2 separate regions of the Homo sapiens genome follow, and region 2 is linked to region 1. A link means that fine-mapping ties the variant in region 1 to the expression of a gene that starts in the linked region. Tissue or cell type: breast. Region 1 holds a variant in brackets; the other region holds the start of a gene. All regions are shown on one strand. Distances are from middle to middle.

Region 1 (7,608 bases):
TAATGGTGTAGCCTATTGCTCCTAGGCTACAAGGTTGTACAGCATGTGACTGTACTGAATACTGCAGGCAATTGTAATACAATAGTAAGTATTTGTGTATCTAAACATAGAAAAGGTATAGTAAAGATACGGTATTCTATCTTAAGGGACCACCATAAGCAGTCCATTGTTGACTGAAACATGCAGTGCATTACTGTATGTGTCAGTTAGTTACCAACACTTTGAGAAACCAGGAGATGTCAAATCATTTGGATTTGGGGCTTTTGGAAGATAGGAATTTCTGGCCCCACAGCACAGCAACAGTGGGCTGGAAGTGAATAGTGCCCTCCATGGTTGCCCAGAACTCCAGGTCACTCAGATGCTACCAGCCACTGCTCTTTTACATTTCCTGCCTGGCCTATGGGGTCACAGTTCTTGTAATCTCTGCTTTAAACAGAAACTCAAGACTTCCCAACTCTACACCAGAGGTGCTGGCATAGCAGTAAACTTTGAGCCATAAGGGAAGAGTTTTGGAGTCACATTTTTGAACATGGGTTTAAGCATTTCATTTAAAACATTCATGCTAATTTTATATATTACTCCATACTTTGGCAATGTTTACTTTCACATGAAGTCTGTTACTAATACTGGGAAACTTGGCCCTCTGCCTTGCGCAAAGGCTCTAAATGTCTCCTGCATTAAGATATTCTGGCTGGGCGTGGTGGCTCACACCTGTAATCCCAGCACTTTGGGAGGCCGAGGCAGGCAGATCACCTGAGGTCAGGAGTTCAAGACCAGCCTGGCCAGCATGGTGAAACCCCATCTCTATTAAAAATACAAAAAAAATTAGCTGGCCATGCTGGCACACGCCTGTGATGCCAGCTACTCAGGAGGCTGAGGCAGGAGAATCACTTGAACCCAGGAAGCGGAGGTTGCAGTGGGCTGAGATCACACCACTGCACTCTGGCCTGGGCAACAGAGCGAGACTCCATCTCAAAAAAAAAGATTTTTTTTCTGGCTCCTCCTGTTAGAACCAAGTCCAGCTCATGTGCATGACCAGACATCTGCTGCTCTTGTTTACCAATGCATATGACAAATTCTTAGGTACAAATGACCTCCAAGGTGGCTCTTGCATGCCCCAGGGTCTTAAGAAGCACAGATCCAGGCTAATCAGATAGGAGTGTGCTGAGTACCTGGTTTCCAACTCATTGTAGTAAACCCCGTCACCCTCTCGGAAGATGAAGAAGTAGTTTTCCTCATAGCCCTTGCTAGCTTTGTTCTTCACGTTCCAGTTGTACTCCCGAGCAATTTTGTAGTCATACCTGAAGATGAGGGCACAGGTTCAGCCCCATTTCTTCCCTATCCCAATCCCCAAAACTTCCCAATCCCCAAAACTTAACCGCAACCCACGCACACATCATCTGGTGCATAGTCCATCTCCTCCTCCTGGTCCCGCTTTCGTTTCTTCAACGTCTCTTCTACAGGCAGGAAATAGGCCACAAACTGGTTCCCTTCCTCATCCATCATGCCCCTGGTTGGGGGAAAAGGAGTAGCAATGAAGTGTGAGGACAAGAGGCAGCAAGGAGCAGGCCAAGGTGGACAGCAGGACCACCTACCTAATCATGGCCTGAGACATCATCTCCAACGCAGCTGCACCACTCGTGTCCTTGGGGGCTGGGTCTGAGTCAAAGATCACCTGAGCACATGGATTGATCCACATCTAGGGAGATGGAGGCACTGGGGTTAGATGGGAACAGGCACAAATAGGCTGTCCCTTTCTACCTCCCACCTTGGGCCTGACCTTAAAGTCTGGGAAGACAGGCATGACCTCCACCGGTGTGACTCGGGGTTTGCTGTAATGCTGTGAGATCTGGTGGAACAAAAACAAGGTGAGGAGGAGCTCTGCAGCCGCACCCTTGCCTCTCCCCATCCCAGTCCCTCAATTACTGATTTCTGGGCATCCTCAAAAGTCTTCTCAATGGCTGTGATCTGGCTATCCCTGTCTTTGTATATTTCTTCCTCGGTAAACTGCTGCTTCACAGAAACCCCAATCCTAGGAATGAAGAAAAAGGTCCTTAGGGGCCACTGGACACACCTAATATCTCCACCTTCCCTCTCTTCCTGTTAGTAACTTACTTGACCTCAGGCTTCTCATTGGAGATGCCATAACGGTTGAACTCAGTGGAGATGTACTCTGTCTTTCGCATCCATGGCACCACCTTCGCGTGCTGCTGGGATCTGGGGTGGGAAATCAGGTATCTCAGGACCCCACTGCCCTCCTGCTTGTAGGGCCCACCTGAGCCAGTCTCCAGTACCCATTTGCTACCCACTCACCTCTTGGAGCTGGTGGGGGCCTGAATCTCCTCTTCCAAAAGTTTCTCATCAGCTGGATCTAGAAGAACTAGAGGAGAGCGGGGGGCAGGAGGACCATGAGGGAGGCCCAGGCCTGAGCCTTTGCTGACCTAGAGCAGACCCTCCCTGTCTCCCCACACACCATTGGGGTCGATGCGGTAGGTGTCAGGATTGATGAGATCGATGGTGACCCCCAGGTCTGGCTCAGTCAGGAGGTCATGTTTGTGCTGTTTCTCCAAGGAAGTGGCTTTGTACTGGACGAACCTGGGTGGGGAAACACCTATTGTGGTGTTTGGATTCCAGCTTCACCCCTCACAGCCCTGCTTCCCAGAGGCGGAGCTTCTCTGGGGAGGAACTCAGAATGAAGTGTCCCCCATGGCAGAGTCTGAAAGCTGGCTCCCCAGTGGGAAGGGACTTGGACACTGCTTGCTCCATTAACAATTGAGCAGCTACTACTATGTGCTAGGGTAGGTACTGTGCTAGGCCCTGAGCAGACAGCAGCCAACGAGACAAGCAGTCCCTGCCTTCAAGGAACTCATACCTGAGTAGTTTTCCCATTCCTTAGTCTCACCTGTTCTGGTCGAAGGGGTAGGTGATGAACTTGGGGTCGAAGGGGATATCAGGGAGGCTATTGCAGTACTTGACTCGGCAGACCACTCCAGACCTAGGAACATTAGTGGCTCAAAAGTGGGCCCCCGCTGCCCCACCTCTGCTCCCAGCCCCACTGCCCCACCGCTCCTGGGAAAGCACAGTGGGGCTCACCTCTCAGGCAGAGTCCGGTGGGAATTGGGCCTAGTGGAGAAGAAAGAAACAGTGATAGGTGGAGAGGACGGGATTGACAGGAGAATGAAAAAGGCTTCCCCAACCTTTCAAAAGGTAGGAGGGGTGACAAATGCTGGTTTCTTTGGGTGGTGGTGTGGGGAGTGTCCAAATGCTTTAATGGAAGGAGACAAATGTTCAATTTATTTAGGAAGAAATGCCCCCAAAAGCTTTAATGAACAAGGCCAAGTGCTCAATCCCTTTTGCAGGAGATGGCTTCAAGTGCTTTAATAAAGAACCATGTACTCAATCGTCTTCGGAAGAGGGGTCTCCAAACGGTTGACTGGAGGGATCCCTTCTGGAGGGAGTCTCCAAAAGCCTAATCCCTGAACTGCACGGCGGGGAGGAGGGGAACACCTGAATCTCAGAAGGAACCCGCCCCCTTCGTCAAAGGTGAGCGCTTCATGACGTCACGGGCAGACCTGGGGGCTGGTGACGTTGTTCAGCAGAAACCCTCTCCCGATCCCCCGCCTTGCTGCAACAGAAAAGCGTGGCGCCTACCTGTGGCCATCCTCCCGCTGGGCCTGGGTCTGGATGGTGGGCGCCATAGCGACGAGGCGACGGCAGCCCGGACGGGGTCCTAGCGGGACCGAAGGGGGACGCAGAGGGGCGTGCCGACTTCAGGGGACGCCTGATCCGAGGAAGGCCCAGCTTGGCGCCGCTCCCCGCGGAAAGTGGGTTGAGATGAGGTGGGCGGGCGAGAAGAGCTCCAGCGAGACTCAGGTGAACGCGCAGGCAGCACCGGGGACGGACTCGAAGCTCCGGTTCCACCAACTGCCGCCAAGACGCTGAGGACCCAACGGGTCTCCTCAGGCCGCGACGCCTTCGGGGAAATGAAGTCCGGCTCGGAACCACACACGGATTGGCGAGCGTCTGGGTGAAGGGCGGAGCGAGGGAGAGAGGTGCTTCTGTGATTGGTGGAGAGATATCTCAGTCTGGACGCAGATTTGAGAGTGACGTAACGTTGGGGCACCTCCTTCCCCTCCATTGGCTTAATTGCCTAGGGGGCGGGACTAACTAGCAAACGGGGACTAGAAATAGGGATGCTGAAAAGCAACGGGGAGAGACGCAGTCGTAACGCACTTCCGGCGGTCTACGCGAGGAAGATGGCTGCATCCCAGCAGCAAGCTTCAGCGGCTTCCTCAGCTGCTGGTGTATCGGGTCCTAGTTCGGCTGGCGGCCCGGGTCCCCAGCAGCAGCCGCAACCGCCAGCACAACTGGTGGGCCCTGCCCAGAGCGGCCTCCTGCAGCAACAGCAACAGGACTTCGATCCTGTGCAGCGTTATAAGATGCTCATCCCGCAGCTGAAGGAGAGTCTACAGGTGATTGGCCTTAAGCAGCGAGAAGCAAACTGGATTTGGTAGTCTAGAGGGGCAGGCCGAGGGCCAGGTTAGTCGGAGAGAGCGCTAAGCAGAAAGAGGAATAGAACCTGCTGTTTTGGCCTGGCTGGTGCACGCCTGTGTTCCCAGCACTTTGGGAGGCCGAGGCGGGCGGATCACTTGAGGTCAGGAGTTCAAGACCAGCCTGGTGAAACCTCGTCTCTACTAAAAATACAAAAATTAGCCGGGCATGGTGGCGCGCGCCTGTAATTACAGCTACTCGGGAAGCTGAGGCAGGAGAATCGCTTGAACCCAGGAGGCGGAGGTTGCAGTGAGCCGACATCGTGCCATTGCACTCCAGCCTGGGCAACAGAGCGAGACTCCGTCAAAAAAATAAATAAATAAATAAATAAAACTGTTGTTTTCTGCGAGACCTAAGCGAAGCTCGGCAGAGATGGGATCAGCGCTGATGCTGAGGCTGGGACTGGCCGGAGCTTGAGTGAGGGGTTGTTTAAAGGAGAAACTGGGCTCTGGTCGTTAAAGCCTGAGGAGAGTACTGGCTTATACGGAGATTCTGCCCTTGATTGATAGGTGAGGGAGGACCCTTAGGTTATTGGCGAGAAGCTCAGGTGAGAGCGGGCCTCTGGGAGGATGGAGTGGTGACAGCTATAGGAATGGAAACGAATATTACTTTGGAAAGTCAGGAGGGAAGGTGCCAGTTGAAAAGAAAACCTGAGACTGAGTGATCTCAAGAAAGAGTGTAGATCTGCCAGAGGTATTCCCTTTTGTTTTTCCATTTCCCACGTGTTTTGTTTTTGTTTTGACTAGACCTTGATGAAGGTTGCGGCCCAAAACTTGATTCAGAACACTAACATCGACAATGGACAGTGAGTGCAGCCCCCTTTACCAGGATATTCTATTGCCTTCCCAGTCTTTGAAATTCATCTTTCCTTCTCCTGCTCCCCGCCCACCTCACCTTCTATATTTACTTTTTTTTTTTTTTTTTTTTGAGACAGGGTCTCCCTCTGTCACCCAGGCTGGACTACAGTGGCACGATCTTGGCTCATTGCAGCCTTGAACACCTGAGTTAGGAGATCCTCTTGCCTCAGCCTCCCAAGTAGCCAGGACTACAGACATGGCTACAGACTACAGATGCCTGGCTAATTTGTAAGATTTTTTTATAGAGACGGAGTCTTGCTATGTTTCCCAGGCTGGTCTCAAACTCCTGGCCTCTAGCCATCCCCTCAGCCTCACGAATCACTTCTCCTATTTTATTTTATTTTTGTTGTTGTTTTGTAGAGACAGGGTCTTGCCACGTTGTCCAGGCTGGTCTCAAACTCCTGGGTTCAAACAGTCCTTCCACCTTGGCCTCCCAAAGTGCTGGGATGACAGGCATGAACCATCATGCCCAGCCTTTTCCTTTTCTTTCTTTCTTTCTTTCTTTTCTTTTTTTTTTTTTTTTTTTTTTTTTTTTTTTTGAGACAGAGTCTTGCTCTGTCGCCCAGGCTGGAGTGCAGTGGTGTAGTCTCAGCTCACTGCAACCTCTGCCTCCCGGGTTCAAATGATTCTCCTGCCTCGGCCTCCCAAGTAGCTGGGACTACAGGC[G/A]CGTGCCAGCACATCTGGCTAATTTTTGTATTTTTAGTAGAGATGGGGTTTCACCATGTTGTCCAGGCTGGTCTTGAACTCCTGACCTCAGGTGATCTGCTCGCCTCGGACTCCCAAAGTGCTGGGATTACAGGCGTGAGCCACCGTGCCCAGCCTCCTTTTCTTTTTTTTTGAACCCCTCCGGTTTTCAACCACTACTTCAGATCTCCTGGACCTGTACCTGGTTTCCTGATGGACACTTGGTTGGGTAGATACTGGTGTCCCAAAGATTAGAAATCAATTCTTCAGACATCCTTTTTTCCTTGTCTGTAGAAAGAGCAGTGATGGACCCATACAGCGCTTTGACAAGTGCCTGGAAGAGTTCTATGCACTCTGTGACCAGCTGGAGCTGTGCCTGGTAAGAAGCCTTCTGGACACGGGGTAACAACAGCCGTGTCCCAGTCTCTGGGGTCTTCAGAAACAGTCAGTCAGTCAACTCACACTCAACTGGGGACCTCCTGTGGGCCAGACCTGTGCTTCCACCAACACTGAGGACACAGGGTTGCTCTGATCCTTGCCCTTGCAGAGCTTTCAGTTGAGTGGAATAATAAGCACACCCCTAAACAGTGACAGCTCAGAGTGGTCAGTGCTGTGATGGGAGAAGCCTAGGCCAGAGTGGTTAGGGTTATGATTGAGGAGGCACAGGCAGAGGGATCAGGGCTGGGATGGGGAAATCTCAGTGTGGAAGCCCAGGGTGGGGATAGGGAGAGAGTGGCTTAGGGAAGGCTACTGCTAGACAGCACATCTGACCAAGTCTGAAACAAAGAAGAGAAGAGGGGCAGGAGTTGAGAGGAGGGTAAGTGACTAAGAATACAGCCTCTGGAGTCAGATGCACCATCAATCTCTACCTCTGACCTCTGGGTTCCTCCTTAGGAAAACGGAGTTTCCAGGAAAACTTAGATTATGCGTGTAAACTGCTTAACATGATACCAGGCATATGGCAAATGTGTACTGTAGTATCATCATTATTTTGGACTGGTTTTTTTGGTGGGGGGGTGTGGGGGAGGACAGTCTCACCATCACCCAGGCTGGAGTGCAGTGGCACGATCTAGGCTCACTGCAATCTCCTCCTCCCAGTTTCAAGCGATTCTGGTGCCTCAGCCTCCCAAGTAACTGGGACTATAGGCATACCACGCCTGGCTAATTTTTGTATTTTTAGTAGAGATGGGGTTTCACCATTTTGGCCAGGCTGGTCTTGAACTCCTGGCCTCAAGTGATCCACCCGCCTCAGTCTCCTAAAGTGCTAGGATTACAAGCATGAGCCACTGCACCCGGCCTTTTTTTTTTTTTTTTTTTTTTTTTTGAGACAGAGTCTCACTCTGTCGCCAGGCTAGAGTACAGTGGCGCGACTTCAGCTCACTGCAACCTTGGCCTCCCAGGTTCAAGCGATTCTCTTGCCTCAGCCTCCTGAGTAGCTGGGACTACAGGCACGCACCACCACGCCCAGCAAATTTTTGTATTTTTAGTAGAGATGGGGTTTCACCATGTTGGCCAG
Region 2 (4,702 bases), 580 kb before region 1:
TTTTTTTTGAGATGGAGTCTCGCTCTTTCGCCCAGGCTGGAGTGCAGTGGCGCAATCTTGGCTCACTGCAAGCTCCGCCTCCTGGTTTCACGCCATTCTCCTGCCTCAGCCTCCCGAGTAGCTGGGACTACAGGCACCCGCCACCATGCCCAGCTAATTTTTTGTATTTTTAGTAGAGACGGGGTTTCACTGTGTTAGCCAGGATGGTCTCGATCTCCTGACCTCGTGATCCGCCCGTCTCTGCCTCCCAAAGTGCTGGGATTACAGACGTGAGCCACCACGCCCAGCCAGATGCGATTTTGCCATTTTGGCCAGGCTAGTCTCGAGCTCCTGACCTCAGGTGATCTGCCTGGCTTAGCCACCCAAAGTGCTGGGATTACAGGCGTAAGCCACCATGCCCGGCCAGGCCACCCTATTTAAGGGGACAATTTAAAGGGAACCTCTGTCCGCACATACACTCCCCATCTCCCTTCCCTCCTCATTTTCTTCATAGCACTTAATATCATCTGACATCTTACATATTTGACTTTTTTTTTTTTTTTTTTTGAGACAGAGTCTCACTCTTGTTGCCCAGGCTGTAGTGCAATGGCACGATCTCGGCTCACCGAAACCTCCACTTCCCAGGTTCAAGTGATTCTCCTGCCTCAGCCTCCTGAGTAGCTGGGATTACAGGCATGCGCCACCACGCCCTGGTAATTTTGTATTTTTAGTAGAGACAGGGTTTCTCCATTTTGGTCAGGCTGGTCTTGAACTCCCGATCTCAGGTGATCTGCCTGCCTAGGCCTCCTAAAGTGCTGGGATTACAGGCCTGAGCTACCGCGCCCGGCCTGGACTTATTTTTTATGTTTCCCCTACTAGGACATCAGCTCCACGAGGGCAGGGGTCTCTGTCCTGTTCACTCCTCCATCCCTAGTGCCAGGACACAGAATAGGCACTCAGTGAAGAAGTAAACAATAAATAAATAAACAACAGGCTGGGCAGAGTGGCTCATACCAGTGCCTGATCCTCCCAGCACTTTAGGAGGCCGAGGCTAGAGGATCGCTTGAGCACAGGAGTTCAAGACCAGCCTGGGCAACATAACAAGACTTTGTCTCTACAAAACAAATAATAATAATAAATAAAAATTAAAAATTAAATTAGTTGGGCATGGTGGCACATGTCTGTAGTCCCATCTGCTTGGAAAGATGAGGTAGGAGGATCACTTTAGCCCAGGAGTTGGAGGCCGAAGTGAGCTATAATATTGTGCCACTGCACTCCAGCTTGGGCAACAGAGCAAGACCCTATCTCTAAGGAAAAAAAAAGTCCTATGAGGCCAATCATTATCAACGTGTTAAGGCCCTTTTTAAAAAGCTAAGACTGGGCCAGGCGCAGTGGCTCACGCCTGTAATCCCAGCACTTTGGGAGGCCGAGATGGGAGGATCACTTGAGGTCAGGAGTTCGAGACCAGCCTGACCAACATGGTGAAACCCCATCTCTACTAAAAATACAAAAATTAGCCAGTGTGCTGGCACATGCCTGTAATCCCAGCTACTCAAGAGGCTGAGGCAGGAGAATCGCTTGAACCTGGGAGACAGAGGTTGCAGTGAGCCAAGATCATGCCATTGCACTCCAGCCTGGGCGACAAGAGCAAAACTCCATCTCAAAACAAAAAAAAAAACAAAAAAAACAAAAACAGAAAAGAAAAGAAAATGAAGCACAGAGAGGTATAGTCACTTTCACTCTTTCACCAACACAGAGCTGGGGAGTGGCAGAGCTGGGATTTTAACTCGGGGACCCGGCTCTGAGCCTGTGATCTGAATTCCTGCCATTGCACCCATCAGCTTCAGTCTAATGTCCAACTCAGGGACTGCCTCTCACGGTGAGCCCTCCCTGAACCTTCTGGCCCCCACGTCCCCACTCCTGATCTGCCCCAGATTCATCTCTGGCTATTGGGTGGGGCAGAAAAAGAGTCCCCTCTCCACCAGGGTGGGGTAAGGGCAGAAAGCCCCCAACAGCCAGGCCCAGAGCACCCAGTTGGAAGTCCCCTGCCAGCCCGGCCTGGCTTGGGGAGGGTCTTACCGCTTCATGTGCTCGCTGGCCACTCCTTGGATGTAAACAGACATTCCCACGTTGAGCCCGCCCGGGATGGGCTGGTAGTAAGGCAGCGTCTGGAGAAGAGGCCTGGTGAGGGGACTCACAAGCCATCTGCCTGTTGCAGCCTTTACCCCTCCCAGAAAAGCCCCCCAGTCCCTTAAGCAGGAGAGAGGAAACCATGGGGGAGGACCAGGTTGAAGATGACGAGGGCCAACAGTTAGACGTGGACACAGACAGCCTGAGGTCAGGGTAGGAGTAAATCGAGGGTCGGGGTCAGCTTTGGGTAAATCAGACCACAGAGTCAGATGGGGCCCCCCAGGATCAGAGTGGGGAAAATTGGTGTGAGGGCTTATGGACGGAGCTGCGGGCGGAGTGGGGCCTGAGCTGGCATCTCACCGGGTTGTAGGTGGGCTGGTAGCCCGGTGCGGGGACATAGGCCATCGCTCGAGGCTGCGCTAGTGGCTGGTCCTGTGAGAAGAGCTGCAGGAGTGGGAGATGGTGGCGGATGGCAGGCGGTGGTGGCTCTTATACCCAGGGTAAGGGAGTGGCTGGCAGGGGAGGGTCCACAGGGCTCCTCTTCTGGGACTCTCAGGCTGTCGGCTTCTCCTAGAGCGCACCCTAGTCTCCCTTCCCTTGCCAGCTTCCCTGGTGACCAGCCAGGACCCAAATCACCTGGGTCCCCTCCCCTACGCCCTCCTGCAAAGAGGAAGTGCTCATGAACTTCGGCCCTGCCAGGGCCTTATCAGAGCCCATAAAACCCTGCCCAGACTTCTGTTGGCAGAGGGAGGGTGAGACCAGGCAGGGCAGGGCAGGCTGCAGGAATGACCCAGGACAGGTGGGCAGCGGAGGAGGAGAACGCGGAGGAACTGCAAATTCCTGCCTCTCCCAGCAACTGTGAAGGGACCTACGTTGATTGCGTGCCCACCACACATCTTTACCACGTATGTTGTATTGTAGGGAGAGTGGTTTAGATTACTAGTGTGTGGAGCCAGAGGTTCTAGGTTCAAATCCTGCCTTTGCCACTTCTCAGCTGTATGATCATGGGTCAGTGCCTTACCCTCAATTTGCCCATGTGCTCATCTGTAAAATGGGGATATAGTAGTATCGGCTGGGTGCAGTGGCTCATGCCTGTAATCCCAGCACTTTGACTGGCCGAGGTGGATGGATCACCTGAGGGCAGGAGTTCGAGACCAGCCTGGCAAAATCCCAGTCTCTACTAAAAATACAAAAATTAGCCAGGCATGGTGGTGGGTGCCTATAATCCCATCTACTTGGAGGCTGAGGCAGGAGAATCACTTGAACCTGAGTGGAGGAGAGTGCAGTGAGCCAAGGTCACGCCACTGCACTCCAGCTTGGATGACAGATGGAGACTCTGTTTCAAAAAAAAAAAAAAAAAAAAAGGAATTCATAAGAGAGGAAACAAGTATTGAATAGCTATCAAAATATTTTAAAAATGAATTTGTGATCCAGTAATGCCTGTATGTTATTAATCTGCCAAATAAGTTCTAGCTGTGGGTCCAACTGCCACTCAGAAAAATAAATAAATAAAGAAAAGAGTAGTATCAACCTTAGGCTGGGTGTGGTGGCTTGTGCCTACAATCCCAGCAATTTGGGAAGCTGAAGCAGGAGGACTGCTTGAGCCCAGGAGTTCAAGACCAGCCTGGGCAACATAGTGAGACCCCCATCTCTACAAAAATAAAATAAAAATTAGCTGGGCATGGTAGCACACATCTGTATTCCTAGCTACTCAGAGGCTGAGGCAGGAGGATCGCTTGAACCCAGGAGTTAAGGTTACAGTGAGCTATGATCATGCCACTGCACTCCAGCCTGGGTGACAGACTAAGAGTCCGTCTCTAAAAATAGCAACAATAATAGTCATAATAATAATAATCATAATAGTATCAACTTCATAGAGTCCTTGATCATTAAGATAATAAATGCTCAGAACAGGACATAGCATATAGAAGTCATTAACTTAATGCTTGGTCTCTTGCAGTCATTCCAAACATAAATCCGGAAGATTGGGATGATATATGGATAAAAAATCCCAAAGTTTTGTTTGCTCATTTTTGAGACAGAGTCTTGCTCTATCACCCAGGCTGCAGTGCAGTGGCACCATCTCAGCTCACTGCAACCTCCACCTCCCAGGTTCAAGGGATTCTCCTGCCTCAGCCTTCTGAATAGCTGGGATTACAGGCTTACTCCACGCCTGGCTAATTTTTGTATTTTTAGTAGAGACCAGGTTTTGCCATGTTGGCCAGGCTGGTCTCAAACTCCTGACCTCAAGTGATCCACCTGCCTCAACCTCCCAAAGTGCTGGAATTACAGGCATGAGCCACTGCACCCGGCCAGAAACCCCAAAGTCCTTTTTTGTTTTGTTTTTTCTTTTTTTGAGACAGAGTCTCACTCTGTCACCCAGGCTGGACTGCAGCAGCATGATCTCAGCTCACTGCAAACTCACCTCCTGGGTTCAAGGATTCTCCTGCCTCAGCCTCCCGAGTAGCTGGGACTAGAGGCACCTGCCACCACACCTAGCTAATTTTTGTATTTTTAGTAGAGACTGGGTTTCAACATGTTGACTAGGCTGGTTGCAAACTCCTGAGCTCAGGCAATCCACCTGCGTCAGCCT

The links. PIP is the estimated chance that this variant, and not a neighbour inherited with it, causes the effect.
Region 2: it holds the start of LGALS4, and the variant in region 1 is fine-mapped to the expression of LGALS4 in breast (GTEx, PIP 0.97).

The regions. Positions count from the first base shown.
Region 1 is chr19:39,387,167-39,394,774 of GRCh38, forward strand. It overlaps PAF1 (PAF1 component of Paf1/RNA polymerase II complex), which reads right to left and starts at 3,940. Exons shown (of 14, transcript NM_019088.4): 1 at 3,652-3,940; 2 at 3,094-3,123; 3 at 2,903-2,995; 4 at 2,474-2,595; 5 at 2,314-2,380; 6 at 2,116-2,217; 7 at 1,927-2,032; 8 at 1,781-1,849; 9 at 1,596-1,699; 10 at 1,394-1,510; 11 at 1,173-1,301. The coding sequence starts at 3,698. MED29 (mediator complex subunit 29) reads left to right here and starts at 4,212. Exons shown (of 4, transcript NM_017592.4): 1 at 4,212-4,472; 2 at 5,298-5,356; 3 at 6,387-6,471. The coding sequence starts at 4,257. It also overlaps a transcript of SAMD4B not described here. RefSeq lists a silencer at 2,598-2,729 and an enhancer at 4,267-4,556. The variant G/A (reference allele first, on the strand shown) is at 6,075.
Region 2 is chr19:38,810,373-38,815,074 of GRCh38, forward strand. It overlaps LGALS4 (galectin 4), which reads right to left and starts at 2,573. Exons shown (of 10, transcript NM_006149.4): 1 at 2,470-2,573; 2 at 2,059-2,147. The coding sequence starts at 2,514.